Linked DNA regions of Homo sapiens. The protein of the gene in region 1 purifies or fractionates together with the protein of each later gene. This does not show direct contact. Each region holds a gene or a part of one and is shown on either strand. Other genes may lie near its edges.

Region 1 (7,377 bases):
CCCAGGGGAGGGGGTGGTTAGGGGACAAGCAGCAGTTGCCCTTGGGAGTCACAAGTGCTGGTTCTTGGCTGTGTACGTGTGCCCAGGGCCCTGTGTGCACACCTGGTCATCCATGAGTGACAGCAGGGGAGAGACGACCAACGTGAGGCAGGGGCTGCGCCGGCTGTAGAGCAGCGCTGGGAGCTGGTAGCACAGGGACTTGCCGGCACCTGTAGGCAGCACCAGCAGCGTGGAGATGCCTGGATGGGGCGGGAGTCAGCAGCAGGGTTCTGCAGCCTGGCCTCAGCCCAGCCTCAGCCCTGGCAGCCACGCTCACCAGACAGGATCCGCATGACTGCACGCTCCTGCCCAGGGCGAAAGGCTTGGTGCCCCAGCTGCTCCAGGGCCTGGAACACCTCAGCCGGCGTCTCTGCAGACACAGATGTTGATCACCATGACTTGAGTCACCCCAACCCCTCAGTGAAGGCTCTGGGCCAGAAGCTGACTGCTCACCTGCCAACTGCCCTGAGGGCCCCAGGGAGTAGAGTGGCAGCACGGTGGGGTCCAGGCTGGGCACCTCAGGTACAGGTTGTGGTGAAGGAACCAGTGGCTCAGGCCCAACAGCATCTGTGTCTTCCTCACTTGCTGGGGCAGGCAGGAGAGGGTAGAATGGGAGCTCCAGGTCGGGCAAGACAACCACTGGCCACAACCTCTCCTTCCCCCAAAGGGGGTTGGCAGCAGGCAGTGCCCTTCCTCTGGGCTACTTTTTCCAAAGCAGAAAAGAGTGACAGCCATCGTCGTCCCTGCCACCCTCCTTCAGGGGAGCTAGGGTAGGGCCTGGACCAGGGGTACCTGGAAGGCCTGTTGCTTGGAACATAAGTGTCCCCCAAAAGAGCACTGCGCCCTCTCCACAGTGTTGGCCGGACCCACCCTCCAGGGCAGATGTCTCACCTGGCCGGGGACACTGGGCTGCCCAGTGATCGAACTGCTCGTTCAGGAAACAAGACTCCTTGGTTGTGACTGTGGCACCACCACCCCCAAAACACTCCCCTTTCTTCCGCCACTTCTGCTTCCATGCCTGGGGGGTGCCCACATAGGAGGGTCACTGGGCGGGAAATACGGGAGGGCTGAGGGGAGGGAAAGGGAATGCCTGTCCTGGCCCGTCGCTGTCTTACCTGCTTGCGGAGGAGCCTGCTACGGAGTGCCCGGCCCCGCACGTAGTGTTTCTGCTTCATGTTGAGCCGTACGTAATTGCCCCTGTCATGGCGGGCCAGCCGAGGGAAGATGTGCAGGGGGGCTGTGCCCTCAGCCTTCCCAGCCCTAGCTTGACTGGAGGGGCTGAGTCCGTGGTACCTGGGGTTCGATGGGCTGCTGCAGGGCTGAGGTGGCTGTGCCTGTACAGGTTCCCCTGGAGGGTCTTCCTCAACTGCTACAGCCCCAGCCCCCTCCGATGGGGGTCCAGCTTGGCTGCTCTCCTGCTGGACCTGTGCGGGGCTCTCCCAGGGCTCCTCGTTCCATCTCCGCTTCTCGCCTCCACTGCTGCTGGGCTGGGGGCTCCCCACACGGATGCTGACTTCTTGGAAGGCTGAAGCCTCTGGGCCCTGGGAGCCAGCACCAGGACCAAGGACAGCCGACTCACCAGGGATCAGAAGTTGTGATTCCTCTGAGCCTAGATCAGGCCTGCAGGCTTTGGGGGCCCCCAGAAAATCTGGGACCTCACTGTGACATCGCTGTAACCAGCCAGGATCTAGGGAGCCCAGCCGCTGGCTCAGGGATGCCTGCAGATGCTGGAGCCGGCCTGGCCTTGGCTGGGGCTCAGGGAGCTGTGGAGGCTCATCACTGACTTTTTCTGCAAAGGAGGGGACAGGCCCTGTACCTGGGGGCTTTGGGGTGGATGCCTTAGATGAGGCTCTTCCTAGAGGCCACGGTCTGCGGCCCAGGGCTGGTCCGGCCTGGGAGGGGAACAACAGAACAGCAGGAGGAACTCAGGCCCCTGAGCTACTGTAGACTCTAAAACCTACCTGAGTCCCCACGCTCAATTGTAGAGCAGGCTAATTAGCACAAGGCTGGACTAGAAAGGGAGTCAAGGGCGAAGGCCCCGAGAAGCTCCCTGAAGACTCGTGCCCTGGTTGGCACAGGGGCCCGTGCCTGTCTGTGTGGAAAAAATGACAAGAGGGCGACCCGGACCGGAAGCAGCTGTGGACCTAGCGTGGACTCACTGCCTGCCCACTCCTCACCTGCAGGGTGCCTTTCAGATTGGCCTTGAGCCGCTGCCCGTAGTCCGGCACCGAGCCCTGGCGGCTCCGCCCTGGCGTAGACTGTGGACTCTTGGTCGCAGCCCGATTCAGATGGGGCCCCCAGCAGCGGGGCTCTGGCGCCTGCAGGAGACAACAGGGGCACAGGCCAGAAAAGGCTGTTGTGGCGGCAGAAGCGCTCCCAGCCACCCCTCCCGCACCTGGAGCGAGGCCCGGCCCTTCTTCACTTTGCCCAGTCCCCCTCCCAAGTTCTGTGCCCCACGGCGGCCTGGCCGCGACTCCGTGGCTCCCGCCACTCCGCCAAACAGGGAAGTGGGAGGAGGCTGGGGCGGCGGGGCCTGGGTACCTCTTCGGCCGCCGCGGGGAGCGACTCGGAGCTGCGGAGCCCGCCGCCGGCCTGGCCCGTGGTACGCTTCAGAGTGCGGTATTCCCGGTAGAGCGCTGCGTGGGCGAGCGGGAGGCGGGGTCAGGGTGGGGCCTGGGCCCCTGCCGACCCGGTGTCTTCTCGCCCCCGCCGCCCCGCCGCGCGCTCACCGCGGGTCTCCTCCGGCGCCGCCTCCACGTCGTCCTGTAAAGGGAACGCGTCAGCCGCGGGCCGCGCCCTCAGCCCCTCGGCCCCTGGGCAGCCCGCACCTGGCTCGGTCGCCGCCCGCGCTGCCGTCGGAACGCGCGCTCCCACGCCTGCAGCCGCTCCCGCACGTCCCGCAGCCGCTCCATGGCGCGCGCGCCCGCCCGGCCTCCGCGCTTGCGATCGTCCAGCGAATCTCCCGCGCAGCCGTCGCGGGGGCCGACAGCCAATGCGGATGCGCGGCGGGCCGGGGGCGGGGCCACCGCCCCTGGGCAGCCAGTCCGTCGGGCCTCGGACAAGCAGCCAATGGGAGGCGTCAACGTCATCGCGGGGCGCCGCGGCGCCGGGCGGGGAGCGGCGGACGGTCTAGGCGGGGCTGGAGGCGGTGGCTGCGGTTGCGGGACCGGTGAGCGCGGGCGGCCGGGGGGGTGTCTGAGCGGGGCGGCGCACGCCCCTGGCCCTGCCTGGCCTCAAGGGGCGGGGCACCGGTCGCTCGGGGCGGCCTGGCCGAGGGAGGCAGTGGCTGCATTTGGGAGCCCGGGGCCGAGGCCGGGAGCCTGGGAGGTGCCACCGCGGGCCGGGAAGGACTGGGAGTCCCCGGGCCGGTCGGAGCGGCGTCAGGCCCTGGTGGGAGACGCATCCGACCTGGAGGAGCAGGCCCCGCTCGGGAGGCGAAAGAGCGGAGGGTCCAGCGCCTCCCGCGGCTCGAGGCCCGGAGGAGCCGGGCGGGGGCGTCTTCGCGAAACGCAGGCGACCGAGGACCGTCGCGTTCCCTGCGGCCGGCGGGAGGGGAGGGGGCGTCGCACGGAGGTGCCTGCCTCCCTTGGTGGGCAGGCCGTCTGCTTTGGTGTTCTCCCGTGACAAGTGCTCGGTTGGTCTGTCCTGTCAGAGCGAGTATGATCGTTGAGATCTGTCCACCGGCAGAACTAGGCCGAGGGTTGGTGTCTGGGACTTTTCAGGAACCGGTGCCTTAAGGACTTACTTGTATGTGGAAAAGTCGACAAAAAGAAGGGCCTTGGGGCCAGAGTGTCTTCCCCGGCCCCCTTCCCTGGCTTGTCACTCAGGCTGTGACCTTGGGCCAGGCCGAGGCCTTCATTTTCTAATCTGTCACAGGGAGATGGCTGCGATTTAGTTTTGAGGATGCTACAGGCAGCAGCAGGGCTGGCACCCTGTGTCACAGGTACCTTGTGGCCTTGGGAGTGTTTGTGCATCTCTGCAGCTTGGGTGCTGCTGAGGCAGCTTTCTTTGCCTTGTCTGAGCAGTCTGTAGCTTTGCACCTTCTGAATCCCACATACTTAAGACTTGGTCTTTCCACAGTGGCTCTCCAGGGAAGAGGGAGAGGTTTAGGCCAGTGGTAAGGGCCAACAAAGGTGAGGGTTGCTTTCTTTCGGGGTCTCCGTGCTTGGTGACGCTCTGGAGAATAGTAGCTTTTGCGGGGGCTTGTATTTTATAGGCTACATCATCTGGACTCGGTGTTCCCTGGGTCTCGGTCTTTTCAACCTGCCTTGTTGCTTATGAAGCTGCTTCTGTGCTTCCAGCTCTTTGGTGTTTTGTGGAGTCCAAGTGTAGCCCTGGAGAGCATCTGTGAGGAGAGGGGAGGGAAAGGTGATTTGGCTGCTTGACTCCTTAGAGTGTCCCGTCAATACTAATGCTGATGAAGGTTGGTGGGGAGAGTCCTGGGCTTTATTCAGGTTTCGAAGAAGGTTTTGTGAAGCAGCTTTGTAATTTGAGAGGCCTGAAGTACCCATGGGGGGCCCTGCAAGGCAACAGGCATCTGTCAAAAGCATACCCAAGCAAGCGAGTTGTTGACGATGCCACACTGCTTGACGCTTAGTTTCTCTAAAGAGATCCTGTGCATCTGGAGGGCTGGGGCTGAGTTGTGAGTTTGTCTGCCAGTTCACTGCACCCAGCCCAGCGCTAGGCATCTAATAGGTGCTTCTCTGTGCCATGGCCACTGCTAACTGCTGACTTTGTTTCAGGCACTATGCTGGGCCTTCCTACCACTTGTGTGTGGCTTGGTAGTGGCCTAGGGTCTCTCCTCCCTGCTGAAGTCCCTCTCCTGCAGGTGGCCGTCTGCCCGGCCCAGCACCATGCACACGCTTGTGTTCTTGAGCACACGGCAGGTGCTGCAGTGCCAGCCAGCTGCCTGCCAGGCCCTGCCCTTGCTGCCACGCGAACTCTTCCCCCTGCTGTTCAAGGTGGCCTTCATGGACAAGAAGACAGTGGTACTGCGCGAGTTGGTACACACGTGGCCCTTCCCGCTGCTCAGTTTCCAGCAGCTGCTACAGGAGTGTGCCCACTGCAGCCGTGCCCTCCTGCAGGAGCGGCCTAGCACTGAGAGCATGCAGGCTGTTATCCTGGGGCTGACTGCCCGGCTCCACACCTCAGAGCCTGGGGCCAGCACACAGCCCCTCTGCAGGTATGGACTTATCTGGAGGGTCGTCAGGCCAGGGGTGTGTAAGTGGGTCCCCTGAGGAGGCTTGGGTCATAAAGTTAGCAAGAGCTCATGCAGGAGCAGGCGCGTTGCTCCTGTCCCAAGGTGGCTGGGAGGGGGTATGGGCGCTGCCCCTCCACCCCTTCCTCACACCATTCCTACTCCCAGGAAGCATGCGCTGCGGGTGCTGGACATGACGGGCCTCTTGGATGATGGTGTGGAACAGGATCCTGGCACCATGAGCATGTGGGACTGTACTGCTGCCGTAGCTCGCACATGCATTGCCCAGCAGCAGGGTGGGGCCGCAGAGCCTGGGCCAGCCCCCATCCCCGTGGAGGTGCGCGTGGACCTGCGGGTGAACCGGGCCTCCTATGCGTTCCTGCGGGAGGCACTCCGAAGCAGCGTGGGCAGCCCGCTGCGGCTCTGCTGCCGGGACCTGCGAGCTGAGGACCTGCCCATGCGCAACACTGTGGCCCTGCTGCAGCTTCTGGATGCAGGCTGCCTGCGCCGCGTGGACCTGCGCTTCAACAATCTGGGCCTGCGCGGCCTGTCTGTGATCATCCCACACGTGGCCCGCTTCCAGCACCTGGCCAGCCTGCGGCTCCACTATGTGCATGGGGATTCAAGGCAGCCCTCCGTGGATGGCGAGGACAACTTCCGCTACTTCCTTGCCCAGATGGGCCGCTTCACCTGTCTGCGTGAGCTCAGCATGGGCTCCTCTCTCCTTTCAGGGAGGCTGGACCAGCTGCTCAGGTGAGCGGGCCCCACCACTGCCCTGCCCCTCCCTTCTGTAGGGACCCTCCCTGGCTCTGCCTGTCTGTGACCCCTGTGTCCCCTGTAGCACCCTGCAGAGCCCCCTGGAGAGCCTGGAGTTGGCCTTCTGTGCTCTGCTGCCTGAGGACCTACGCTTCCTGGCACGGAGCCCACATGCTGCCCACCTCAAGAAGTTGGACCTGAGTGGTAACGACCTGTCTGGCAGCCAGCTGGCACCCTTCCAGGGTCTGTTGCAGGCATCAGCAGCCACACTGTTGCATCTGGAGCTGACTGAGTGTCAGCTCGCAGACACCCAGCTGTTGGCCACACTACCCATCCTGACTCAGTGCGCCAGTCTCCGGTACCTTGGCCTCTATGGCAACCCACTGTCCATGGCGGGCCTCAAGGAGCTGCTGCGGGACTCAGTGGCACAGGCTGAGCTGCGTACTGTGGTGCACCCCTTCCCTGTGGACTGCTATGAGGGCTTGCCCTGGCCGCCGCCTGCCTCTGTCCTGCTGGAGGCCTCCATCAATGAGGAGAAGTTTGCCCGCGTAGAAGCTGAGTTGCACCAGCTGCTTCTAGCCTCAGGCCGTGCCCATGTGCTCTGGACCACGGACATCTACGGGCGACTGGCTGCGGACTACTTCAGCCTATGATGAAGTAGCTCTGGGTGAGACACAGGCCGCCCTGCAGTCTCTTTAGGTAGGCAGGGCCTTTGCTGGGACCCCTGGTGGAGGCCTTCACAAAAGCACTGGTTACTGGTTTCCTGCTGGGTCTACCTTGCTTCTGGGCACACCTCAAGCCTCCCCTGCTTTCTGCAGTGCCCCACGCGGTTTTCCCTGCACTTGCTCCATAATTGGCTGATCATCTGTGGGCCCCGGGGCTGGATGTCAGGCCTCCATTGCCCTGCTCAGTTTGGCTGCATTTGGCTGCCGTCTGGGGTCCTGGTCCTTTGTGCAAATGCTTTGGGATTCCAGTTGTGAGCTGAGAGAGATGATGGCCTCTCTGGGCCTTTCCTCTCCCTTTACTGAGAGCTCAGTGCTTCTGGGGTTGAAGTTGGACAGAGGCCTGCTTCAGGGAAGCTGGGAGTCCCCAGGCACTCACGCCTCTTACGTGTTCCCTACCCTGCCACCCAGCCACCCCACTGGGCTGGGCTCGGGCTGGAGGGGGTCATCAAGGTACACATGTGCCTGGAAGTTGAATTTGTGGCTGTTTTTTTTTCTGTCCACGTTGGTCACCCTTATCCTTATCTCTGCTGTCACCCCCAACATGGCCACCCGGCAACAACTGCCATCCAGCCTGTCGCCCCGCCCTTCGCGGGGCAGCCCCGTCGGCACTGCCGGCCAGTCCTTGCTCTTCCCACCTTTCGGAGGCCCAAGATCCTACTG
Region 2 (7,024 bases), on another chromosome or scaffold:
AACTCTTGTTTTATTATCAGAGATGATTGGGGCACTTCTTTCTTTGTAAGATACCCTTAATATTTTGGGGAACCAGGTTGGCATCACAGAGGGCCCTTCCCAGCAGCTTTGTTTCTACTTCAGCTATATTCAGGTCGTCTTTTGATTTATCTTTATTAAAGGGATGACTGTTCTCTGAATGAGATAGTTCTCTCTTACCTGTTTTCCCTTCCTCTTTTTATTTACATGTTCAAGTAGAAAGGGATTACAGCCATTTATGTATTCAATTCCTAAAACTTTCTTTTCAAATCAGAAAGATTCTCAATTGCTTTTCAAAGCAGACCTTTCCTCCTGACTCCACATGCAATAATTAAGAAGCGGAAGGCTGGGTGTGGTGGCGTGCACCTGCAACCTCAGCACTTTGGAAGGCTGAGATGGGAGGATCAGTTGAGCCCAGGAGTTTGAGACCATCCTGGGCAACACAGCAATACTGCAGCTCTACAAAAAAATTTAAAAATTAGGGCATGATAGCACATGCCTGTAGTCCCAGCTACTTGGGAAGCTGAGGCAGGAGGGTTGCTTGAGTCAGGAGTTAGAGGCCATAGTGAGCTGTGATTGTGCCAGTGACCTCCAGCCTAGGCAACAGAGCAGAGACTGTGTCTCTAAAAAAATTTTTTTAATAAATAAAGAAGGTGAACTTGCCCAAGCAACCAGATTTTTTTTTTTTTAAGACAGGATCTTAACTCTGTCACCCCAGCTGGAGTGCAGTGGCACGATCTTAGCTCACTGGAACCTCCACCTCCTGGGCTCAAGCTTCCTGGGCTCCATCTCCCTGCTCAAGCGATCCTGTTACCTCAGTCTCCCAAGTAGCTGGGACCACAGGCATGCGTCACCACACCTGGCTAATTTTTTGTATTTTTGGAGACAAGTTTTCACCATGTTACCCAGGCTGGTCTCAAAGTCCTGGGCTCAAGCGATCTGCCCACCTTGGCCTCCCAAAGTGCTGGGATTACAGGCGTGAGTCACCGTGCCTGGGCAACCAGAACTTTTTATAAACTTGTGTGTGTATGTGTAAACATAAATATACATACATACTTTTACTGTTGGACTGTATTAAAACAGGAGTTTTAAAGAGGTGGTTAAGATAGACAGCAGACTTTGCTTCTGAAGGTGATAGTGGGATAGCAGATAATGTTTCTTGAACTGTCACTTGGAACCAAGTACTGTGTTAAGAAAGTACTAGGTTTGTTATCTCTAATCTTCACTCCAACCCTGTGAGGTAGGACTGTTATATTAAGTTTATATTAACTTTTTTGTTACCACCGTTACTTTGTTAGCAAGGTTTAATATTGATATCCTTTGATGTACTAAGAGCACCTACTGAAGTCAGCACTGTCAAAAGACTGCTGGTCCAAGACTTGCTTTGGGAATACCAACCCCTCTACCAATTTAGCTGTTTGAGAAGGCTGTCTCAGGGCTACTTCTTACATATCTTGGCCTCAGTTTTTAAACTTCTCATCCTGTGATCAGAAAGCTAATGAAAGAGAATTTGATTGATGAGCATTCTCGTTCACTTGAAATGCAACTGTGAGAGATAGCAGGAATAAAGAAGGTGATGATCATAACTAGGGAAGTTAGGATGGCAGTAAGGGAGAAGTTCTATCAAAGACAGTTAGAAACACTGAAGTTAGTGGACTTTGTCAGTTAACACTCGTTCCTTAGCAGGACCAAGATTCTTTCTTTGAGAGCAGTAACATTATTGAACAAAGTCATTCTGAAAACCCTTGTTTTTTCAGGCAAGAAACTATATTCAGTCTTTGACTCAGATGCCGAAGATGAACTTTGCGAATGTATTTATTGGTGCCAATCCCCTGGGTAAGTTGACCATATATCCTCACCTCATGGATATTGAATTGGTTATGATATAAATTGGGGATTTGAAGAAGAGTTTCTCCTTTTGACCAAATAAAGTACCATTAGTTGAATCTTGGAAGGTGATAAATACGGCTTTTATTATCTATTTGTGTTGTCAGATTTTTTTTTAATCACATGAGATGATTGTATGTTTAAATGATCACAGAACTTGGGATTGGGGGAATGGGCAGGTACAGTGGAGAAAGGAGAGAAAGTAATGGGAATGTTGAGAGAAAAGATTGGTGAGGCAGGAAGAAGCAGATACAGAAGAAAGCTGTAACTTGCTCACAACTGCTGTGGATTTATGGTGTCTCTGAGTGGAGGACAGAAACCACTGAAGTGCAGGTGGGTGTTTAGAGGAGCCACCCAGGAGCTCCCTGCAGGGTGCTCTGCTCTAACGGTAGCTGCCGTTGCTACAGATCCTGTCGTCTTCCACACTCATGAACTTTTCCCCTCTCCTCTTCTTTCTCTGCCCTCAGAGGCATAACCGTCCTCTCCTGTTTGTGGAGCTTATTTGCTACCTAAACTTAAAGGAATGGCTTCCTATGCCTTCAAGATCCTTGGCAGAGGGAAGTGATGGTGGCAGCTGAAGATATGTGTTGCCTTGGCTAAAAAAGGAGTTGCTTTATTATTATTATTTATTTATTTATTTATTTATTTATTTTGGTAGTGTCAGGGTCTCGCTCTTTTACCCAGGCTAGAGTACAGTGGCACAATCATAGCTCACTGCAAGCTTGAACTCCTGGGCTCCAGTGATCCTCCTGCCTCAGCCTTCCAAATAGCTAGGACTACAGGCATGCATCCCCAAGCCTGGCTAATTTTTTAAAGAATTCTTTGTAGAGACAGGGTCTCACCATCTTACTAATCGTGGACTCCTGGACTCATGCAGTCTGCCCACTTCAACTTCCAAAAGTGCTGGGATTCAGACGTGAGACACTGTGCCTGGCGGACTATATTCTTTGAAGGGGAGGAGTGATGTGTGCTTCAGATGGCCCCTGAAAGCTGCTTTGCCTGAGGCTCATTCCCTGACTCTTGAAGAGGACAGTGGACAGTGCTGTTTAATGGTGGACACAGAAGGATCAGACCAGGACCTCCCTACAATAGGGAAGGGAGCTATGCTATGGTAACGAGTATAATCTGCCTTCTCACTTTTCTTAAGATTGTATTGTGTGGTGTGTTTTAAAATCTCACTGCATTTCTTTGCATCTGTTTGGGTCATCTGTCTTCTTAAGGGTCTTGGCAGCTATGCTTCAGGTTTAGTTTTATCTTTTTGAGGGCTGACAGCCATGCTGACCTCTTTAGAAGCTGGGGTGAAGGCTAGGTGATTTTACCTTTTTAAGTACTTCATCCATAGTGATTATGGAGAGGAATTTTAGTGTCGCTGTGATAATTCTTATAATAGCAGAGATACTCACGCTCTTTGAAGTTTTGGGCAGTTGTGGATGAGTTCGTGTCAGCCTTGGAGACAGAGAGTATGTCATATCTCAGCTGGGTCGCTCTCCTGCCCTAGGATGAATCCACAGTCTCATCAGGGGTGGGTACGATTCTACTGAGACTGGCTTAGGTTTGCATCTGCCCTGGCATGCTCTCATTGGCTTTGTGTGATTTATTTGAGCTGTATTATCTAGTTCAAGGGTCTGTGAGAAGCTCTCTTTGAGCCTTAAGTACTACAGGATGTTGGGAAAAGATGTTGTGTTCTTTCTTTCCTTTTTTTTTTGAGACAGAGTCTCGCTCTGTCGTCCAGGTTGGAGTGCAGTGGTGCGATCTCGGCTCATTGCAAGCTCCACCTCCCGGCTTTAAGTGATTCTTCTGCCTCAGCCTCCTGAGTAGCTGGGAATACAAGTGTGTGCCACCACACCTGGCTAATTTTTTGTATCTTTAGTAAAGACGGGGTTTCACCGTGTTAGCCAGGATGGTCTCGATCTCCTGACCTCGTGACCTGCCCGCCTCGGCCTCCCAAAGTGCTGGGATTACAGGCATGAGCCACTGCACCCAGCCCGTCGTGTTCTTTCTTGTCGTCATTCTGTTCTGAAGTTGTTTCATTTTATAAGCCTTAAGTTTTGAACAGGGCAGTACTCACTGACACCCTCTTAACAGACTCAGAAAGATGTGTTAATTCATTTTTTAGGGGGAGAGGGGAGATATTTGTGTTCCAGCAGCTTATTTAGGTCACATACCTCCTGATAGGTCTTCCCATTCTTTGAAATCATGACATTGAAACCTCCAAAAGAACTAGATACCACTTTGCTAATGAGTTGAAAGGAGGCTTTGGTCCATCTGGTGCTCAGCACTGTACTTCTCAGCATTTAAACGTGCCTTACAGCCCATTGCCAAACAGTGATGTCATATAATGAGGCTCCCCTTGCTGGGCAGATGGAGCACAGTGTTACTATCACAAGCTCGTGCCCAGCATATTAACTGAGCAGGAACATGCCAGAAATATAAATATTAACAGCTCTGTTTTGTCAGCCACTGACTTTGTTTCACTGCTATTCCCAAAACATGAATTAAAACTTAAATTACCCCTTGATGTTAGTGTATGTATTTATCTGTCAAGATTTTTTTTTTTTAAGAGATGGCATCTCACTCTGTCACCCAGGTTAGAGTACAGTGGCACAGTCACGGTTCATGATAACCTCGAACTCTTGTGTTTAAGTGATCCTTCCTCTTCCCTATCCCAAGTAGCTGAGACAACAGGCACATAATGCCATGCCCAGCTAATAAGATCTTTGAGGAATTTGTTCTTGCCCCTGACCTTATTGGTTATAAGAACATGGTCCTTTTTACCCTAAGGGTAACAGAGACTTGTCGTATAATCTGTGTTCAATTATAAAATCAACAGCTGATAAGGTTTCTTTTTCTAAGAAGAGAAGACCATCAGAAGAATATATATATATATAATCCAGGCATTCACCTAGTACTGTAAAGTGTAAACTTATGAACTTGAATTGACACATGAATATTTACTTTGTTTCTGTATCCCCTTGAAGCCCATATTTCTCCAGTGGATTACTCTGGAATTCAAGCTGTAGGACGGGTGTTTTACAGCCTCCAATATACACAGCAGTAGATCTCTATAGGAAGCTGTCCTCTTCACTACTCACCCCCACACCCTCCACATTTAAGGAGTAATTTGCAAAGTCTCAAAAGCCTTTTTCACCACAGTGATAACTGGTTATATGGCAGTATTTATTCTCCCAAGTGCCACCATGCTGAAACACAAAAATACTCATTTGAAATATAGAGTTAGACAAATTACCATTTTGTAACCCCTTATGAAATAATTGCTTTTGGGAAGGAAACCCAGTGAATGCAGAAAGCCATAAGTGAAAAGAATGGATATTTACTTGGTACCAAAATATCCCGCAGATTACTTGCTTTGGTCAAAGGGGAAACATCTTAACCCAGTGATCAATTTTAGCTCATTAGTAGTGGGACAGATGGCCTTAATGCACTGTCACGTGCACAGCATCACCTGTATTTTTGCTGAAAATGTTTAACCTGATTCTTACCAAAATTTTTGACCTAACTTCCGGTTTTTGGGAAGTACAGGGGATAGTGGAAAGCAGGGTATAGACACATGACAGCAAAAGAAGCAAAATCAGACACATCCCGAGAAACGGTCATTCTCAGGACAATCAGAGGGTCTCTTTAGATCAAAATCAGGAAAGAACAGGGCTTAGAAGTAAGAAGATTATTCTAGACTAAGAGAGACTAAAGAAAACCAGTCAGTTGCAGTGCATGGCCCCTAATTGAATCCTGGTTTCAACAAACTAGTTCTAAAAGACAACGTTGGAATAATTGGAGAAATCTTAACATGAACTGGATTTTAGATGATATTTAGAAATTATTTGTCAGAGATAATAACAGTATTATGATTATATAGGAAGATGTCTTCGTGTTGAAATATTTGGGGAGGGTAAAGTGTCATGTCTATAATTTTATTTTAAAACAGTTCAGAAAAAAATACATATAAATACAGAAATATAAAAATGTTAATTGTTGAATATGCTAGGCATATGAGTGTTCACTTTATCATAGTTTTTACTTTTCTGTTTCTGTATATTTGAAATTTTTCATAGTGAAATTTTTAAAAATAAAATTCCCTTTGATTTTAATACCATGTCTCACCCTCATCACCATGTAAAACCCCCAGTTTATTCACTGTTTGAAGATCTGTTGATGAATATTTGATGTTAGTAAATAAACAGCTTAGGGGGACAAAAAAAAAACAGCCCTGCCTACCTATTGTAGGTTACTTCAGCTGTAGGCTTTGTTTTATACAGTTTGACTACACTGGTAGCAGTTTGACATTGACGGTCCACAAAAGCCTGTTCAAACAGAATCCCAGTCATTTAAAAAAATTCTTCTTTAGTAACATATTCTTTAAAAATACAAAATACAGGAGGAGGGTGAGGGTTGAGAGATAACCTATCGGGTACAATGTTCACTATTTGGTTAATGGGCACGCTAGAAGCCCAGTCCCCATCAGTCCGTGGTGAGACCCATGTAACAAATGTGCACATGTACCCCCAAATCAAAAATAAAATAAAAAAATTTTAAAACATAGAAAATACAGATACACACACACACACACACACACATACACACATAAAGGAGAAGAGGGCTAATATATCCTAGAGTAGGTATTTTGGAGGAGAGTTCTTTGTTTGGATATGAAGGGTCAAAACTATGTTTGCTCAATAAGGCATACTTTTTTGTAACATGTTAAAAACTCTTTTCCTTCCTGTCTATGGTACTGATAGCTGTCGACTTGCTGGAGAAGATGCTTGTATTGGACTCAGATAAGAGAATTACAGCGGCCCAAGCCCTTGCACATGCCTACTTTGCTCAGTACCACGATCCTGATGATGAACCAGTGGCCGATCCTTATGATCAGTCCTTTGAAAGCAGGGACCTCCTTATAGATGAGTGGAAAAGTAAGTCCTAAGGGTAGGATTAACATCTTGAACCACTAACCAAAAGCGGTGGGAAAAATAAAAACTGAATGGTCATAACCAACTTGCTAAAGCTTGTAGATGAGGTCTCTAATGCAGAATGAATATGTTCTCTGGTGGAAACTGTTGTAGACAGTGATACTCTCTGGACCTTTGAGATACTTATGTCTGGT
Region 3 (7,024 bases), on another chromosome or scaffold:
TACACCTTATAAGTGACTGAATTTTTTTTCAGTTTAACAATAAAAAATGTATTCTCCATAACTAGTGAGTCAAGTTTTTTGTAGTTGATTTAAGATCAAAGTAACTTCTAGTTACTTGCTGGTCTTCTGATAGTGTCAATGTCTGCGCTACGTGGAGATTTTATAAATGCCAGTGTCCTAGCTCCAATTCAAGAAACCTTTAAGTCATACTTCACTGGTCTTCAAAACCATGCAGTAGTGCCACTAGCAGGAGTAGGTTAAAACAGTAAATCTTCACTAATCCATAATTAACAAAAAATAACTTTACATTATTTATTTAATCCAGGTATGAACCAGTTGTCTGCTCTAAAAGCTAGATATAGATGACCATCATCATTACGGATATATGAAGTAAAAAGTTCAAATTATATAAGTTTTAAGTTAAAAATTCTCTTGATAGCCTGAAAACTTTTCAAATTCAGTTTAGTAATCATATTCAAGAATTAATATAATTTTCCCACTTTACACTAATGCCCATTTAATATACCACAACCTGGATAAAACAAAAGTTACATGGGGTGGAGGGGTGTAGTGATTAGGGTCTCACTGTGTTGCGCAGGCTGGTCTCAAACTCCGGAGTTCAAGAGATCTTCCTATCTCAGCTTCCCAAAGCACTGGGATTATAGGCACGAGCTACTGCATCCAAAAAATCACTTTTTTTTTAAAGACAGTCGCCAATTTAAGTAACATAATTTATTCTGAATTAGCAAAGCTTCTCCTGTAGTCATGTAAATATACCACATGGTCTGAAAGTAGATAAGGCCACTGTTTAGTTAAAATTTAGGTTCATCGGCAGGGCGCGGGGCGCGGTGCCTCGCACCTGTAATCCCAGCACTTTGGGAGGCTGAGATGGGCGGACCACAAGGTCAGGAGTTCAAGACCAACCTGGCCAACATAGTGAATCCCCGTCTCTACCAAAAATACAAAAATTAGCCAGGCATGGCAGCACGCGCCTGTAGTCCCAACAACTCGGAAGGCTGAGGCAGGAGAATCTCTTGAACTCGGGAAGTGGAGGTTGTATGGTGAGCAGAGATCACACCACTACACTCCAGCCTGGGAAACAGAGCCAGACTCCGTCTCCAAAAAAAAAAAAAAAAAAGCTAGGTTCATTAACTTCTGGATTCATTAAAGAAGTCCCTATTCACAACTTCTAACGATTAGGTGGGGAAAAAGCCACTAATACAAGACTCCTTCGCTGGAAGCCATCATCCTCAGCAAACTAACACAAGAACAGAAAACCAAACACCACATGTCCTCACTCATAAGTGAGAGTTGAACAATAAGAACACATGGACACAGGGTGGGGAACACCACACACAGAGGCCTGTCAGGAGGTGGGGGGCAAGGGGTGGAAAAGCATTAGGACAAATACCTAATGAATGTGGGGCTTACAACCTAGATGACAGGTTGATAGATGCAGCAAACCACCATGGCACATGTATACCTATGTTAACAAATCTGCGCATTCTGCACATGTATCCCGGCACTTAAAGTAAAATAAAATAAAATGACTCTTTCAAATATATATACCTCCAAGTTTAACAATAACAAATTTTGTAATTTCTTTCCAAAAGACTGAAATACAGGAAAGAAAACAGTTTTCTAATGACTCAATCTCTTGAGAATGGTGTAATGCATTATTAAACTTTCTATGCTAAAGCAGAGCTGTACAATAGGTACATAATGTGAGACATACATATAACTTTAAATTGTTTAGTAACCACATTAAGGTGAAAACTGGCCAGGCGCGGTGGCTCACGCCTATAATCCCAGAGCCTTGGGAGGCCGAGGAGGGTGGATCACCTGAAGTCAGGAGTTCAACACCAGCCTGGCCAACCTGGTGAAACCCTGTCTCTACTAAAAATACAGAAATTAGCTGGGCATGGTAGCGGGCGCCTGTAATCCCAGCTACTCAGGATGCTGAGGCAGGAGAATCACTTGAACCTGGGAGGCAGAGGTTGCTATGAGCCAAGATCATGCCATTGCACTCCAGCCTGGGGGACAAAGGAAGACTACTTCTCAAAAAAAGAAAAAAAAAAAAAGTAAACTTCAAAAAACATACATATATTTTGGAAACACTCTTGCTCTGTTGCCCAGGGTGGAGTGCAATGGCAGATCATGGTTCACTCAGTCTTGAGCTCCTGAGCTCAAGGGATCTTCCCACCTCAGACTACTGAGTGGATGGGTCTACAGGTGCACACCACCATGCTCAGCAAATTTTATTATTTATTTTGTAGAGATGGAGTCTCATTATGTTGCTCAGGCTGGTCTCAAACTCCTGGGCTCAACTGATCCTCCCACCTTGGCCTCCCAAAGTGCTGAAATTACAGGCATGAGGCAACACGCACAGCCCAAAATACATTTTATTTAACCCAATATCAAAAGTATTTCAAAAGAATTCAAAATTAATTTTAAGTATTTTTTCCATATAAAAACCAATATTTGTTTAATATTTGATGAATAAAACTAATGAAATACTTTGTATTTTCCATACTGGATCTCTAAAATCCAATATGTCTTCTACACTTATTGCACATATCAATACATTTCAAGTACTCAACAGCCACATGTGGCTAGTGGCTTCTGAACTGGACGGTGCAACTCTAGAGCAGAATAATGATCCTCTGCAATTTGCTGACAAAAATGCAACCCAAGAATCTTCCCATTCTCTAATTACAAATGATTTTTCAGGCACATCCTTATGTTAAAACTTGACTACGAAACACCAAAGTGATGTTATAACCTTTACAATCTCTAATAAAATATTAAAAATCACAAGTTATGTTACTTTTATATGGTGTGCAAACCTCTTAAAAAAGCCCAGGCAGAATAACGACCATCGCTGCAGTGCAAATTTTAAAAATATGAACTATCTCTTTGAAAATAAGCTCACTCCTAAAATGAAGTAGATAATAGTCCTCCTCTAGGAATAAAGGAATTCTAGCCATAATGAGTGATCTTACTCCGCCACAGTAGCAGCATTCACTTTACTAAACAATGAACGATAACCTTAAGGTGGCTGTATGTGAACAAAATACTTTTTCATGAGAGAAGGCCAAAGAAACAACCAGAAGAGTTCATAGTACCTTTGCAAACTTGAAGAATGGTCTTGGATCTTTTCTGAAATATTCAATATCAAACATCGCTTGAGGATCTGGAAGATCTGGGAAGTCTACAGCAAGGCGAGCATAAATACCATCCCTTGACCTGAAGTCAGGTATTCCACATGAAACAGACACCTAAAATGTGCATGGCATAATTTGTAAAATTAAATCTTCTACCTTTATAGGAACTAGCTAGCTCTCTTACCATATAATTAGGTAAGAGTTGAGAAAGAAAATTTTAGTCTGAAACTTCTTTTAAGAAATAAAAATACAACCCTACCCTTATTTCAGAAATAAAACTCCCAAATAACTGAGTAAAATTAAACATACCTCATATTCCATCTTTAACACAGATAAGGAATTTTTAAGTCAGGCCAATTTTAAGCCTTTTAAGCATTTAGCCAACAAATTAAAGCAAATGCAACTTGAGAAGAAAATAAACCATTTCAACAAATTATTTTAAGTAGGGAAGAATTTTTTCTTTTTTTTTTTGTTTTTTTTTTTTTTGAGACAGAGTCTCACACTGTCGCCCAGTCTGGAGTGCAGTGGTGCGATCTCGGCTCACTGTAAGCTCCGCCTCCTGGGTTCACACCATTCTCCTGCCTTAGCCTACTGATTAGCTGGGAATGCAGGTGCCTGCCACCGCGACCGGCTGATTTTTTGTATTTTTAGTAGAGACGGGGTGTCACCATGTTAGCCAAGATGGTCTCGATCTCCTAACCTCGTGATCCGCAGGCCTCAGCCTCCCAAAGTGCTGGGATTACAGGTGTGAGCCACCGCGCCCGGCTTTTTGTTTTTTTTCTTTTTAGACAGTTTCGCTCTGACGCCCAGGCTGGAGTGCAGTGGTGCCATCATGGCTCATTATGGCCTTAACCTTTCCGGCTCAAGCAATCCTCCCACCTCAACCTCCTTAGCAGCTGGGACTACAAGTACGCACCAGCACACCAGGCTAATTTTTTGTAGAGTCAGGGTCTATGTTGCTCAGGGTGATCTCAAACTCCAGGGCTCAAGTGATCCTCCCACTTTAGCCTCCCAAAGTGCTGGAATTACATGCATGAGCCACTCCACCAGCCAAGAATTTCTATTACAGAGAAGTAATTCCAAAGAAATTGCTCCTTTAGTTAGGATTCTATTACCTCAATACTACAACAATTCTCTATTTTCATTAAAAAAAACAATGTATAGCCAGGCACGGTGGATCACGCCTGTAATCCTGGCACTTTGGGAGGCCAAGGCAGGCGGATCACAAGGTCAGGAGTTTCAGACCAGCCTGGCCAATATGGTGAAACCCCATCTCTACTAAAAATACAAAAATTAGCCAGGTGTGGTGGTGTGCGCCTGTAATCCCAGCTACTCAGGAGGCTGAGGCAAGAGAATTGCTTGAACCCAGGAGGCAGAGGTTGCAGTGAGCCAAGATCCTGCCACTGCACTCCAGCCTAGGCAACAGAGCAAGACTCAGGCCAGGAGAGGCTGAGACTGCAGTGAGCCATGATGACACCACTGCACTCCAGCCAGGGCAACACAGCAAGACCCTGTATCCAAAAAAAAGAAAAAAAAAAAAGGTGTATAATATTTCAATTCTTCATTTCTTTGAGACGTGCCCACTAATCGTACAAAAAAATCCTGACATTTCAAATAGAGATTTCAGAAGTTATTGTTTCATCATCTTACCAGAGTTGACTCCAATTTGACCTGGAGTCAAGGTCAATTTAAGTTAAACAAACTTGTCTACATCGTTATCTGTGAGCAAAACATACTCCTGATGATCATCTAAGATTATGTAACACCCTTTCGCAACTCGAAATGGCAGAAAACAGGACAAAATTTTACTACAGCAGTTGCTCTGGTTGCTAACATGTAATATACTCTGTATAAAACACACACTATGCAATAGTCTTAGGTAACTAATTAGCTGCAACCCTAAGGTAGATCAAATAGAAAATGTCAAGTCGCCACAATCACATCATCTTAATTAATATGGAGGGAAGGTAGGAATCTGTTACTCTTCCCAACACTAAGCTTTTCACTTGTGAATACCAATTAGGTTTCCAGTTTCTCATAAAGATCTAACAAATACCCAATTTCTCCATCAGACTGACATCCCTTAACAAAAGCAGAGTTTCAATTCCCTGCATCTCCTTTAGGAGCTATGATATAATGTAGGTAGAAATCTTGCCTTAACTCCATTTACCCACTGTGCTATAAATAAGCAGAAGCAAATATTTTTTTAAGGCTGGAGAGGTTTTAAAAATCTGAACTAATTTAGCAACTGCTGCTGCACTCAGTTTTTGGCAGTTCCCAAACATCCATTATCATGTAAGGATAAATCCTTCTAAACCAGAAAAATGTTTCCTACTTGGAAAAGGCATAAGAAAATACATATACGACCTCCCCATGTACTAGTCTTACATACCCCAGCTCCAGTTAGAACTATAATTTTTTTGCACTCTTGCAGTAATTTCACAGCATCTTCAATTGTATTAATATCTTTTCTTTTTTTCCTTTTTGGTGGTTCTGAAAGGATATTAATAACAATCTGCCACAGTGTCATATCATCCAACTCAGGTGGAGGTATTGTTTCCGGCAATAAATCTTTAAGAATTGTTCGAGGATCTGTGCCAATCATAAGATGTTGCTGAACAAAAGTATATGGACCTACAATAAGGGGGAAAAGGCTTAAAGTCAACTTATCAAGTAATTCAAAATCTCATTTATTTTCTGAAGTAATGAGTTAGCATTCTGTGAGGGTTTTTTGCAAAGTAAGAAAATGCAATTTAATGGTATTTCATTCTCGGTACACTCAGAATTAATGCTATATCCCAATGAGATTAGGAAGATCTAATGAAGAGTTGGGAAGACCCCCTTCAGCTGTAAGTATATATTTCAAGAGTCTAATTAATTAACAACCAGAATTAAGTTCTTATGGTTAATATCTAGAAACACACACCATAATACCAAAAGTATTTACAAAAGGGTTCTACGACATAGAAAAATCGTACCAGTCCTAAAAGCCTGTACTACTTATCATTAAAACCACACAGGAAAAAGAAATGAAAATCTATACATAACTGCCATCTTAATTTTTTTCCGGTAATTTTTCAATTTGATCTTAACCCATCTTCCAAGATAATACATACAATGTTGATGTTCTGAGAACTAATCATTTTCTTTTACCCTGAGATTGCTCAAACCAGCTCCCTAGGCTTGAGAAAACAAAAATAAATAAATAAATAAATTACAGACACCAAAGAGAAACTGATCTTCACTATGTTTAAATAATCAAGCCATTTGTAAGAGTGAGAACACAAAAAGATCCACTTTCAAGATGGTTATACCTTTGGTATAAAAAACTGATAATGCTTTCTACATCGAAATACTTTCCCATTTCATTCACATATTTATTAAATATTTATTGAGCACAAACTATGTGCCAGGCACTTTTTTAGGCACTGAAAAGACAGGAGTATACAAGTCAGTCAAAAATTCCTGCTCCCGTAGAACTTATATTCTAGACCAGGAAACAACACAATTTAAAAAGTAAGATACAGAGCTTTTCAAGAAGTGGTAAGTGTACAATAAAGTGAAAAAACAAGGAATATGAAGTGAGGGAGGAAGATATTCTAACCGGATGAAGAACACTACACAAAAAGGGGACAAGTGAGGTGGGGCAAGGTGGCACATGCCTGTAATCCCAGCACTTTGGGAGGCCCAGGCGGACGGATCACCTGAGGTCGGGAGTTCAAGACCAGCCTGACCAACATGGAGAAACCCCGTCTCTACTAAAAATTCAAAATTAGCCGGGCGTAGTGGCATATGCATGTAATCCCAGCTGCTGGGGAGGCTGAGGCAGGAGAATCGCTTGAACCTGGAAGGCGGAGGGT
Region 4 (7,024 bases), on another chromosome or scaffold:
AGTTTTGTCATCTGAAACATGGAGATGATAATCCTTACTGCTGCCAATTAGTCTGTAGATTGCATGAGCATAAAATGAAATAACTGGCATGCTGTCACTTCAAAAAATAAACTTTTTACACAAAACTGTTCAAAAAACTAAATGGTATAGTAGAAAATGGAAGGGAAGATTATTAATATCATTTACCATCCTCCATCCTCATCACTGCCATCACAAGCCCTCTTAACAAGTCATTGGCAGACACTTAGCAGCTGGTGGAAGCTTTTTATGGTGTTGTGGTTGGGGGTGGCTGAGGGAGGGCTGACCAGCAGCTCCTCTCAAAGACCCAGAGGATCTGGAAGAGATAGGGTAACTGGGGAAGGGAGACAGAGATGGCCAGGTTTTCTTTGGCCCATGGGATTACCACACAGAGAACAAGATGGAAAGCAGACAAGGGGGCCTCGGGGCACCTCCTAGAGGAGGGGGCTTTGATAGTGAGAAAGGGAGGGTTTGGGGCTGAAGAACTGGCTGTGAAGCTGAAATGGCACCACATCTCCTCCCCCCCGGGAGCCTCTGGGGATCACACTTACCCTGAAGAGGGCCCAGTCCCCTTTGGAGGGGTAGAGGGCTCAACCTTCCTGCTCTCATAGGCTGGGAGGGGAGGGGCTCTCTGATGGTATTCCCCCACTTGCACTGTTTAGGGTGGCTGGGTCTGTCTGTCAGCAGCAGAGCCACCCAGGATCTCTAGGAAGGTGGAGTCCCAGGCTAATGGCAGGGCAATAGCTAGGAGGGAGAGATAGCAAGGCAGACTCTGCAGTATGTGCACTGGGACAGACTGCAGAAGGAGGCGGCCACCTGCTCCTCATTGTTGTGAATTCAGATGTACAGAATGAGGACTGGCAGGGATTTTAGACCTTCCAGTTCAGCCCCTACTGATGAAGTCACTGAGGTCCAGAGAGTGGGAGGAGTTTGTCCCAGGCCATGGGGTGGGTGTCAGGTCACAGCTTGAGCCCAGATGTCCTGACTCCTGGGCTCTGAGCTCTTGTTCTTATTTTGTCCAGAATGTCTCTCTGGCCCCCTCTTTTCCTCCAGATGTCATTCTGTTCTCTCAGATTTCTCTCGTCATACTCTTTGACTGGGTCATTTTCTGCATCTCCTTTTGCCCGTTTCTCTTCTCCTTCCTCTCCTCACGCCCCTGCCATGTGTGAATGCCTACTGTGTGGAACAGAGGCACACAGCTGAGGATGTGGTGGGGCTGAAATCCATTGTGTTTGCCCGGAGGGGTGCCTTTTCCTAATGCACCCAGAGAAGTGGCCCTCAGAGCAGAAGCCTGGCCCTCAATGACTCAGAGCACTCAGATTGCAGCTCTCCCTGGGGTGGGATAAGGTCAAGGGAAGGGAGAGAAAATGGTGTCAGCTTGAAACTAGTATAGGAAATGTTATTGGTACTGGTAGGTTTCTTTTTTTGTTTTGTGTTTTCTCTTTTAATTTTAGTGCTATATAATGTATATATTTATGGGATGTAGAGGTTTTTGTTTGTTTATTTTTGAGACAGAGTCTCGCTCTGTCTCCCAGGCTGGAGTGCAGTGGCGTGATCTCAGCTCACTGTAATCTCCGCCTCCTGGGTTGAAGCAATTCTCCTGCCTCTGCAACCTCTGTCTCCTGGGTTCAAGCGATTCTCCTGCCTCAGCCTCCCAAATAGCTGGGATTACAGGCGCACATCACCACACCTGGCTATTTTCTGTATTTTTGGTAGAGTCAGGGTTTCACCATGTTGGCCAGGCTGGTCTTGAACTCCTGACCTCAGGTGATCGCCTGCCTCAGCCTCCCACAGTGCTGGGATTACAGGCGTGAGCCACTGTGCCTGGCCTAGAGTGATACTTTGATACAAGTATATAATATATAATAATCAACTCAGAGTAATTAGTATATCTGTCACCTCAAACACTTATCATTTCTTTGTGTTGGAACATTCAAAATCCTCTCTTCTAGCTTTTTGAAAATGTATAGTAAATTATAGTTAATTATATTCTCCCTGCAATGCTGCACAACACTAGAATTTATTCTTCCCATGTAGCTATAACTTTGTATCTGTTAACCAACTTCTCCCCACCCTCCTCTCCCCAGCCCCCTTCCCAACCTCTAATCATTACTATTCTACTGTCTTACTTCCATGAACTCAAATTTATTATGGATGAATAGTACTCCATTGTGTATATATGCTACATTTTCTTTATCTATCTGTTGATGGATGCTTAGATTGAGTCCACATCTCAACTATTGTGAATAGTGCCACAATAAACATGAGTGTGCAGGTATCCCTTTGATATACTGATTTTCTTTTCTTTGGATAAATACCTAGTAATGAGATTGCTGGATCATATGGTAGTTCTATTTTTAGTTTTTTGAGAAACTCTCATACTGTTTTCCGTAACGGCTATACTTATATGTAGAAAAACCTAAAGGCCCCACCAAAAAACCCTTAGAACTAATAAACAAATTCAGTAAAGTTGCAGGATACAAAATCAACATAAAAAGTCTACTGCATTTTTAATACACCAATAACAAACTAGCTAAAAAAGACATCAAGAAAGCAACCCCATTTACAATAGCTACAAAAGTAAAATAAAATACCTGGGAATGAAGTTAACCAAGGAGGTGAAAGACCTCTTTAATGAAAACTACAAAACACTGATGAAAGAAATTGAAGAGGACACAAACAAATGGAAAAATATTCCATGCTTGTGGATTAGAATTAATATTGTTAAAATGACTGTCCTACCCAAAGCAGTCTACAGATTTAATACAATCCCTGTTATCAAAATACGAATGACATTCTTCAGAAAAATAGAAAAAAAACTAAAATTCATATGGAGTCACAAAAAACCCCAAATGGCCAAAGCAATCCTAAGCAAAAAGAACAAAACTGGAGGCCTCACACTATCTTACTTCAAAATATACTACAGCCAGTTGTGGTGGCTCACACCTGTAATCCCAGCACTTTGTGAGGCCGAGACAGGCGGATCACGAGGTCAGGAGTTTGAGACCAGCCTGACCAACATGGTGAAACCCCATCTCTACTAAAAATACAAAAATTAGCTGGGCGTGATGGTGCGCACCTATAATCCCAGCTACTCGGGAGGCTGAGGCAGGAGAATCACTTGAATCCAGGAGGCAGAGGTTGCAGTGAGCCGAGATTGTGCCACTGCATTCCAGCCTGGGCAATAGAGTGAGACTCCATTAAAAAAAAAAAAAAAAAAATATATATATATATATATATACACACACACACACACACACACACACATATATGTATATATATATACACATATATATGTATATAGATACATATATATGTATATATACATATATATATATATACTACAAAGCTGTAGTAACCAAAACAGCATGTATTGATATAAAAGCAGACACATAGACCAATGGAACAGAGTAGAGAACTCAGAAATAAATTCACATATTTACAGCCAACTGATTTTCAACAAAGGAACCAAGAACATACAATGGGGAAGGGACAGTCTCTTTAATAAATGGTGCTAGGAAAACTGGGTAACCAACCATACGCAGAAAAATGGTATTGGTAGATTTTGTCTGTGTGCTTATTTGAGTTTGATTGTACTGCGTGGGAACTGGACAGCTACCTCCCTAATTAGCATTAATATTTTCCCAGAGATTATTTGGCTGTCAAAGTATAGTAAGAAAAAGACCTAAAATAGGGTCCAGAAGTCTGATAGAGAAATACAGGTGAGGCTGGTGTGGTGATTCACACCTATAATTCCAGCACTTTGGGAGGCTGAGGCAGGCAGATTGCTTGAACCCAGGAGTTTGAGACCAGCCTGGGCAACATAGTGAGATCCTGTCTCAAAAAAATTAAAATAAAATAGAAATACAGGTGAGAGGGAGAAGCAGCAGGACAAAATGTGTAAAATAGAAGAGACCTTTTGATAGAGGTGATAGGAAAGGAAAGACAAACCTATGGGCTGGGAGCATCAAGAAGACATTAAAGGGATTGGGGTGACAGGAGAGGCCCAGAGAGACACTGCATCCTGCCCTGGTAACCCGGGCAGGCCCTGCAGGATCAGGTGGCATGCTTGTACCCTGCTTCTCCTGCTGTACACCCCCGTGAAGAACTTTCTTGATGCTCTCTCTTAGTAACCGGGCACATCCCCTCCGGGAGCTTGCCATGACTCATTGCCGCAGCCCCACTGCTCGGCTCTGCCTGTTTCATGACAGCTTCAGATGTCTTGGGTGAGAAGAGTCCTCCAGGAGACTTGGGCGGATCACTTCCCTCCAGAGGCCCTGTATGTGGCTGTGGATGGGGGCTCCTGAGTCTTTCAGCCTCTTCTCCTCAGGGCCAGCCCTGCCCTGGCTCTCGGGACCCACCCTCTCTGGGCTGCTCACAACCTTTAACCTTTAGAGGACTCTTCTTTCTCCTGTATGATTCTCTCCCTTTCTACTGTTCTAGGAACTTCCATGTCAGGAAATATGCCCAAATGGGCCTCTGGCCCACACTCCAGCTACTGCTCCATTCATTTGCTCTTTTATGCCACCTTTGTCAGCAGAGCTGTCAGGACACACTGTCTGTTTTGTTGCCTGTCCTCTGAAGCCGCCTTGGACTTACATGTTTTGAGGGGCATGTTAGAGGACTTGGCCAGAAATGTGCTACCAGTCTCTGGGCACTTGCTTCATAGCGGGGGGTTGGGATGTGCCTCTGACTTCTTGTCTTATTCCTCTGGAGTAAAGCTCACAACTCTTCCCAAACTTTTGGAAGCAGTCATCAGCAGCCACAATTTGTTAATTCCATTTGTTTCCCAAATCTCACCCTCTCCAGGAAGCCAGCCTGCACCCCACCGGCCCCTGCTCCCATCCCCCTTCACTCTGCTCTCTTTTCCCGTGGTGCGTATCACTCACGTAGTATGATGTATTTGCTACATTGATTATTGTCTGCTTCCCCCTGCTAGAATGTCAGCTCTACAGAAGTAGGGATTTGTCTCTCTCTCTCTTTTTTTTTTTTTTTTTTTAACTGTTCTGAGGCTTCTAGATGAGTGCCTGGTACCTAGGAAGCACTTAATAAATATTTGTGGAATGAGTGAAAGGAAGGCAAAAATCAATTAATACAGGGTATTAAGGAGGCTTTTGACTCACAAAAGGGAATCTGAGCATGTCAGAATAGCCCTCTTCCCACTCACCCTGCCCTACCACCTGTCTGTCACAGAGATAGCACCACCATTCTCCCCCCTGTACAAACCATGCTCTGTTCTTGTTTATCCTTGACCAGTATGTCCAGTTGAATCTGTCTCTAAAATACCTGGAATGTATTGCTTCTCTCTTTTTCTCCCTACTGCCACCACCTTAGTTCAGGCCATCTTTAGCTCTCCCCTGGTCCACGGCAAAAGCCTCCGGACCAACCTCCCCATGTTCCTCTTGCCTCCTTAGTCCCTTCTCTGTGGGGCAGCCAAGTGAGTGGTCACTTAGGGTTTTGGCTCACTGCTGTACAGTGACGCAAACAGAATAGAAGTTTATTTCTGCCTCAGTTAACAGTTCAGAGGTGCAGGGTCTAGAGCTATCACAGTAGCTGTACATAAGCTTATCCAAGGGACTGGGTTACTTCCATGTGGTTCTTCCACCAGCTTCTAGGGATGTTGTCCTCTGCTGCGTGGTCAAAGTTGGGCTCACCACCACCATGTCCAAAATTCAGTTGGGGTAAAAAGGAAGTAGAAAGCAATTTTCTTTTTTTAAAGGACAATGCCCAGAATTATGGTCATTGCTTTCTATCACATTCCATTGGCTGGAACTTAGTCTCATGACCAGACCTTGTCGTAGGGGATCTGGAAAATGTAGTCTTCCCAGGTGGCCGCCTGACCAGCAATAACTCCGGGGGTTCTATTATTAAAAGGAGGAAGGGGAGAGTGGACTCTGGAGGTTACACAGCAGTCTCAGCCACATGTAGAGCGGATCACACATATCATGCCCCTACTTGAAACCCTTGGTGGGTTTCCACTGTACGTGGAGCAAAAGTGAAACTCCTTACCATGCATATCCAGCCCTGCGCAGTCTGGCCTCTGCCGTTCTCACCAAGCCCTTTCCTGTTTTACCTTACCTCTCTTCATCCGGCCAGTACTTCTTATCCGTCAATTCTCTGCGCAGGTATCTCCCAGAGAGGTTGCCCATGTCATCTCCCAGCCATTGTGGCTTCTGTCATTGTGCCGATTTTGTTTGTTTTCTTGTTGTTTTATGCAGTGACCCCACTGGAATGTCAGCTCCATAAAAAAGGGACCACATTTGTTTTGTTCACTGATATGTCCCATCTCTGCTACAGTGTTGGGTGCAGATGCATTGAAGTCTTATTTGATTCATATTGATACTTGTGCTTTTTTCTTTCCCTTCTAGGACACGAGAGACTTCCTAAACAGGTAAAAGAGTCTCCTCTCCATGGCGTACCTCATCCCCCTTGTTTATGTTCCCCCGCTTCTGACCAGGTGCATTTGAATTCATGGGGAGTGGTATGGTGCCAGAGGTACTCACATCCCATGGTTCATCCTGATGCCCTTCTGAGGAGCAGGACACATCATTGAGAACTGGAGACTTGCTCTCCTCCTTATGGTTCTCTGTGTAGCCCCAGCTCCTTGGCCCACTGGCCTTATTTGAGGTGGGACAGAGCAGAGAGGTTAGAAACATGGCTTAGTAGACAGAGCGCCCTGGATGTGGAGTCTACTGATGTTCTGAAGCCCTGGTTCAGCTGGTGTCTTTGGGCCACTGTTTTTCTGTCACTTGTTTGGGGATAATCATACCTTTCCTCTCCCCTTCATAATTGCCATGAGGATTGAGAGATAAGTATGAAGGAAAGTAAGAAGAGCTGAGTAACAGCTTGTTATGTATGTCATCTTCTTAGGTATCCACGGAAGAAGTTCTGGGTTGGGAAACCCATTGCTCGAGTGGTTAAAAAAAAGACCGGAGAATTCTCAGATAAACTCCTCTCTCTGCAACGAGGCCTGAGGGAATTCCAGGGTAAGGGTTGGGGAGCGCAC

What was found.
Region 2: the proteins of RECQL4 (region 1) and MAPK14 purify together in Homo sapiens (affinity purification with mass spectrometry; 4 studies listed by BioGRID and IntAct, with this or other methods). This does not show direct contact.
Region 3: the proteins of RECQL4 (region 1) and SIRT1 purify together in Homo sapiens (affinity purification with mass spectrometry; 3 studies listed by BioGRID). This does not show direct contact.
Region 4: the proteins of RECQL4 (region 1) and TRIM26 purify together in Homo sapiens (affinity purification with mass spectrometry, with the first as the bait; 2 studies listed by BioGRID). This does not show direct contact.

What each region holds. Positions count from the first base shown.
Region 1 is NC_000008.11:144,514,834-144,522,210, forward strand, and holds the start of RECQL4 (ATP-dependent DNA helicase Q4), read right to left. Parts: upstream 3,001-7,377; 5' UTR 2,952-3,000; coding exon 2,868-2,951; exon of another isoform or gene 2,803-2,867; coding exon 2,769-2,802; intron 2,676-2,768; coding exon 2,581-2,675; intron 2,358-2,580; coding exon 2,217-2,357; intron 1,932-2,216; coding exon 1,155-1,931; intron 1,058-1,154; coding exon 931-1,057; intron 625-930; coding exon 493-624; intron 410-492; coding exon 317-409; intron 240-316; coding exon 103-239; intron 1-102. Other genes in the region: LRRC14 (leucine-rich repeat-containing protein 14), read left to right, coding at 4,893-5,221, 5,405-5,989, 6,078-6,645. UniProt on the Homo sapiens protein: An ATP-dependent DNA helicase which unwinds dsDNA with a 3'-overhang in a 3'-5' direction. Does not unwind more than 18 bp of dsDNA. May modulate chromosome segregation. The N-terminal domain (residues 1-54) binds DNA Y-shaped DNA better than ss- or dsDNA.
Region 2 is NC_000006.12:36,100,796-36,107,819, forward strand, and holds part of MAPK14 (mitogen-activated protein kinase 14), read left to right. Parts: intron 1-1,775; coding exon 1,776-1,854; coding exon of another isoform or gene 1,855-1,907; exon of another isoform or gene 1,908-1,969; intron 1,970-6,659; coding exon 6,660-6,833; intron 6,834-7,024. UniProt on the Homo sapiens protein: Serine/threonine kinase which acts as an essential component of the MAP kinase signal transduction pathway.
Region 3 is NC_000010.11:67,887,656-67,894,679, reverse strand, and holds part of SIRT1 (NAD-dependent protein deacetylase sirtuin-1), read right to left. Parts: intron 5,799-7,024; coding exon 5,557-5,798; intron 3,279-5,556; coding exon 3,126-3,278; intron 1-3,125. UniProt on the Homo sapiens protein: NAD-dependent protein deacetylase that links transcriptional regulation directly to intracellular energetics and participates in the coordination of several separated cellular functions such as cell cycle, response to DNA damage, metabolism, apoptosis and autophagy.
Region 4 is NC_000006.12:30,189,398-30,196,421, reverse strand, and holds part of TRIM26 (tripartite motif-containing protein 26), read left to right. Parts: intron 1-6,386; coding exon 6,387-6,409; intron 6,410-6,888; coding exon 6,889-7,004; intron 7,005-7,024.